Regions from separate parts of the Homo sapiens genome. Here region 1 is linked to region 2. Evidence: fine-mapped expression QTL. Tissue or cell type: nasal epithelium. Region 2 holds a variant in brackets; the other region holds the start of a gene. All regions are shown on one strand. Distances are from middle to middle.

Evidence for each region. PIP is the estimated chance that this variant, and not a neighbour inherited with it, causes the effect. A credible set is the group of variants that fine-mapping cannot tell apart.
Region 1: TCHH starts here. The variant in region 2 is the best candidate, but not a certain one, in a credible set for the expression of TCHH in nasal epithelium (TOPMed, PIP 0.86).

The regions. Positions count from the first base shown.
Region 1 is chr1:152,114,059-152,116,750 of GRCh38, forward strand. TCHH (trichohyalin) reads right to left here and starts at 1,386. Exons shown (of 3, transcript NM_007113.4): 1 at 1,333-1,386; 2 at 1-53. The coding sequence starts at 22.
Region 2 is chr1:152,140,074-152,142,765 of GRCh38, forward strand. No RefSeq gene overlaps it. Among named protein-coding and RNA genes, the nearest start is that of RPTN, 18 kb to the right of the region's middle. The variant T/G (reference allele first, on the strand shown) is at 1,305.

The sequences.
Region 1 (2,692 bases), 26 kb before region 2:
TGCTTCTCAGAAGTGGAGACATTTTTTTTTCTTTCCTTCAAGTTCAAGTAAACCTAGAACAATAAAATAAGATCCAGAATCAAAATCCCGTTTCTGCTTTTGGGAAGGCTTCATTCACACTATTTCAGGCAGATCCCTAAATAATTTGAATTTATAGCGGTAATTTCAACCTGGACTTTCAGAGCACTTTAATATTTGAATATTGTATCAGAAAGAGAAAGAGCGATCCTGAGAAATTCCAAGCCAGGGAATCATCTTCAGACTATCCTGTTGTCAGCTTTTGATTGTCCACCCAATGTGGATTATCTATGCCCTTTTCTTCTGTCTTTCTTCCAGCTCTCCACCGTATTTCAGAGTAGAAAATTAAGAGAAGAGTGCAGAAATTAAAATTTTATATATGTCTACACACCTTCCTTTAAAGTTGAGCGAAGAGGACAGGTAAAAGCCAAAAGGTGAAGGAAGACTTGAGAGTATCTTAAAGTGGATAGAGGCCATGTCAGCAAAACAGTTGGTAGAAAATAGAACAATGAAAAGGGAATATGAATGATTCCTCAACATTACAGTCCATAAAGGATTTAGGAACTCTTATAGAATATAATTTGTAAGTCAGCAATTCTAAGATTAAATAGTACTTCTTCCTAGTCAAAAGATGGCATTGTAACATTCAGATACACAAATGCAGAAAACAGAGACTGTATATTACCTGCCTCAACTCAGATATAGTAAGATATTCGGATATTGAAGTATTGAAAGCTTCTGAGAGGTCCTTTCTAAACCAAACGGAATCCAGAAAACTGTGAATGATATTGGTTTTGTTAAACCCAAATGCATCATTGGAATCTTGGCTTTTTATAAAACATTAGCCAGCAGTAGATCAATGTTATAAGAATACATGGAATGGCTTTGCTGGTGGGATAAGTGTAGTCGTTCATCTAGCTGACTTCTTTATGTACTTCTCAACTCCAGTACCTTAAATGCTGTGACTGTATGAAGATGGCCCATATTAGGTAGAACCAATGTAAAAGAGAACAGAAGGCTGGCAAACTTTTGAGATAGCAGTTTTTAGGAAGATGAACCCTATCAGAGCCACACATGATCATCCTTGATGTGCAGAAGTATAGAGTTCAGAGCCCAAGGAGAAGGGTCATGCTTCAGTTCAAGTGATGGCTCCAACCATAAGAAGATGGGATAGAGTTAGTGATAGTTTATTTATCCCTGCAAAATACTGATACCTTCTGGCACATGGAACCTCCCCCCATATCCCAACATCTGAAATAGCTATAAAAATGGAGAATCATAAAGAAGACCACGATCCCACAGAATGGGACTTACCCACTTCACCAGAGGAAGAAGTCGACAGTGCTTGCTGACACCACAGGCAAGTGTACTGGGTAACTGGGAGCTGGGCCTTTTATAGGGGTTTTAATTGTGCCCTGGAAAGCAACTTGGGAAGGAGACACCCACTCTGTGGGATGGCCTGATTCATTCCTAACCAAGCCCAGCTCCACCTCTGTCTCCACAAATGGCTTGTTTATCTCACTATTTGCTCACGTAGCTATTTGGCACGAGGTTCACAGACCTTGCCTCCTGACAGTCAGGGTACCAGCCCCACCTAACATGGGAGGGTAGAATATTTGGCAGAATCTCCAATTTTCTTAAATTGTTAAAAGTAAATTAAATAATAAAACAAAGGTATTAAATGTTCACAATCTTAATTGATTATTACTTCATTACAAAGGAGTAAACTCTAAGCCATTTGCTTTATAAAAGATACAATCTCTAGTTTGGGATTAAGCAGAAACTTTGAAATAAAGTGATGAAAACCAATTAATTTCTCCATGGGATGTGACAGTCCATGGTGAGCTGCTCATAAGCCCTGCCAGAAGCAGTTGCTTCAATTCTAGGGCAATGAGAGAGCTGTAAAGAATTGGTTAGTTTCTTCTCTAAAAATGCAGGTGGGAAAAATTTTTACATTTGTCTCCCGGGTCTTATGATGGTTTTCCTACAGATTGGGGACTGCCTCCTCAGTAAAGTTTGGAAGGGTACCTTGGAAATATATTTTTATTAAACCGTTCATAAGAAAACTTGAAATCTGTGAAATTTCATTCTTAGAGACATTAAACCTAAATGAAGTTTGTTCATTAGTTTTCTCATTAGCATATTGATGCCCCTGGGGAAAAAGAGCTGGTGTAATGTATTATTGTAGATATAATCATCCTGCTCAGCCTAAGTTACTAATGATTATGACACCTAAACACTTGAGTCTGCTTCTCCTGGAAGTACATTGAGGTAATTGGTCATTCTAGCCCATTATATCCATCAGGGCTTTCTCAATCTGGTTGATCATTTGCAAATTTCAGTGCTGTTTTATTGTAAGGAATTGGATTTTATCCATGGTTGTCAGTGACTTCCTTCCTTACATTTCAGACTATATGAAACTTTGGTTCATAATTTATGAAGACTATTAAATGATTCAATGGCTTCTCTGCACTTTTGTCTCCTCCTTTGTCCAACAGAGGCAAGTGTTGGTTTTCTGAATTTTGAGGCAACTGAACGTCCTTCAATGGCATGAGTGAAAATTTGGAATCTAAATCTTGATGGCTATTTCTTTATGTGCAGATTGGTCTAAATGATAATGGAGTTGAACTCTATTTGCCCCCTCACTTGCTGCCATCCTAGATGTGGGGTACAG
Region 2 (2,692 bases):
ATGTTTGTGCATCATGTCTTATGTGTGGCTGTTCTATCAAAGACTTGGCTTGATTTAGTTACATACAAGACTCTACTCCACGGATTGCAGGACCCATCATGTAGGCTCTTTTCATTGGTTTGGGAGGCAAAGAAGGGATTTAGAAACATAGACTCCTGAAGTCAGACATGGATTTGAATGATTTTTCTCTCCACTTAGAAGATATTTGACTTTGGGTAAGTTATTAATCTCTGTAAGCCTCAGCTTTCTCATCTGTTAAATGGACATGATAAGAAGCACCTAACTTACTAGAGTTCATGAGAGGATTATATGGAATAAGGATATACCTGGCACTCAGTATTGTGCCTGCCACACACTTCGGTGCTCAGGGAAAGCTAGTAGTGGTTATTTTTTTTACTCCTATTTATAAATAATTGTTTTATTCTTTTGGATTAATCACATGGAATTGTGATTGTCTTCCTGCTCATAGATTGTGAGTCCTTGATAGAAGACATCCGGCATCTGTACCCCTAGTGCCCAGCACAGTGTCCAGAAAATTGTTGTCATCAGCGTTTGTTGAATGAATGCATGAATCTAAGGCTTTTGAACTGCAGCCCGAAGGTACATATGTAAGATGTTGCTGTTATTAGCAGGCATTGCGTTGCTGAGCCTTAAAAATGAATAAGACCAATGCTTTCCTTGGCTTTAGGGAGATTATGATCCAGTATGAAAGGCACACTGCAAGTTACTTTTTAAGAGATTGTATTTTAACACTAGTACTCAGTAAGTGCTCAATTCAAGTTAGGCTCCTACTGCCTTAGTAAGTCTTGTAATAAGTTAGCTAATAAAAATGGTGCAAATTCATTTTCTGCTTGGTTCTCAAAGAAAACAGGAGACATGTAGGTGCTAGCCTACATGTTAGGTAGTTTTGATTTGCATTTTTCTAGGAGTTCTATGGTTTCAGTCTTACATTTAAGTCTATTATCCATTTCAAGTTAATTTTTGTGAGTGGTGTGAGAGAGGGGTTTTGATATTTGTTTAATTGTTGCTTTTAGTGCATTATGAACTTTAAAATAAGCAGAATGAATTAGAATTCCACAATAGAGGATTGAGAATAATAGGAACAGAAAGGTGGAGTGGAAAAGTTGATGACTAAGGTAGGAGTAGGGAATGACTTTATGGAGATGAAGTATGAAGTGAGATTTTAAGGACAAGGACAATATTAATCTGTCTATTTAAATTCTTATCACTTATTAAAATCCTGGACAGATGCCTTCTCTACAATGAAGACACTTGTTTTGCCCCACCTCAAGTGATCTGCCCCT[T/G]TTTTGAACCTCCATGGCATTTTCTTTCTTAGGGTCTTACCATCGTCTGTTACAGCCCTGGGTGTACATGAAGTGATCAGCAAATATTGTTACATTGAATCATTGTTACATTGCATAGCTAAGCACCTGCCTCTATCCCTGCCTAATTGCAAGCTCTTTCAGGGCATGAGTTGTGTCTTCACAGTTCTCTAGTGCCTACAACACACCAGGTTCCATGCCAGGCACCCCACAAATCCTTACAGGCAATTGATAAAGAAGATATCATTGAAAATTTAAAGTCAGGAAACCAAGGCTGAAGTCACACAGGATGTTAAGTAGGTGGGCCAAGATTGGAATCTATTTCTACTGGACTCAAAACCTCTGCTAGTAACTTCGTAGCACACTACATCTGTTTGCACAGTTAGGGAATCTAGTAAAATGCTCAATAGCTATTTGGGATTGAATTTACTGAATGAACTGAATGTGTCTCATTCAGTGGCAAGCAAAACTAGAGCAAAGCCCTACAATAATTGGGCTTGGGGTAGTGATATAAAAAACCAAAAAGACAAACAAAAACAGTTGCCAGGGACACCCAATCAGGCAGCCACCAGCACGTGTCCCTTTTCACACAAATTAACTGTTTCAGCAGAAACTGGTGACCAGACTATACAACAAAAGTATTACTTGTTCACTGGGCAGAGAGTGCCAAATTGTGACCTGTTGTTTTTGCAACAGTATTTGTCACTTTGCTTAGATATCTATCTCTTAAGGAGGGAATGTCTTAAGGAATCCATTGACCAGCAGGCGGCACTAGAACTGCATGGAATAGTTTCCTCCAGTTTGCATCCAGGGTGTTTTCAGCCTCTGGAATATTTACTTAACCAGGCTAGCTGATTGATCTAGACATTTAGTTATGAAATCATAGCATTACAGTCTTGAAAGAGACATTATAGATTGCATTGTTTCAGCTCTTCATTTTAAGGATGAGAAAACTGGAGCACAGTCTGGTGACACACATGACCCAAGATTGGATGTGGTATTGGTAACAGTGCCAGAACTAGAATTCAAGTTTCCTTACTCCCAGTCCAGGGCTCTGTCTCTCTCTTTGAATGATGCTACTTAAAAAATCTTTTAAATTGTATCTTAAATTTAATTTTTCCTCCTTCACTGAAGTATAATTGATAAACAAAATTATATAAATTTAAGGTGTACAACCTGATGACTTGATATACATATGTATTGTGAAATGATTGTCATTATCAAGTTAATTAAAGCATAGTTACCTTTTTTAGAATTGGACACTGTCACTTGCAGCAACACGGATGGAACTGGAGATCACTATGTTAAGTGAAATAAGCCAGGCATATCGCATATTCTCTTATTTGTGGGATATAAAAATCAAAACGATT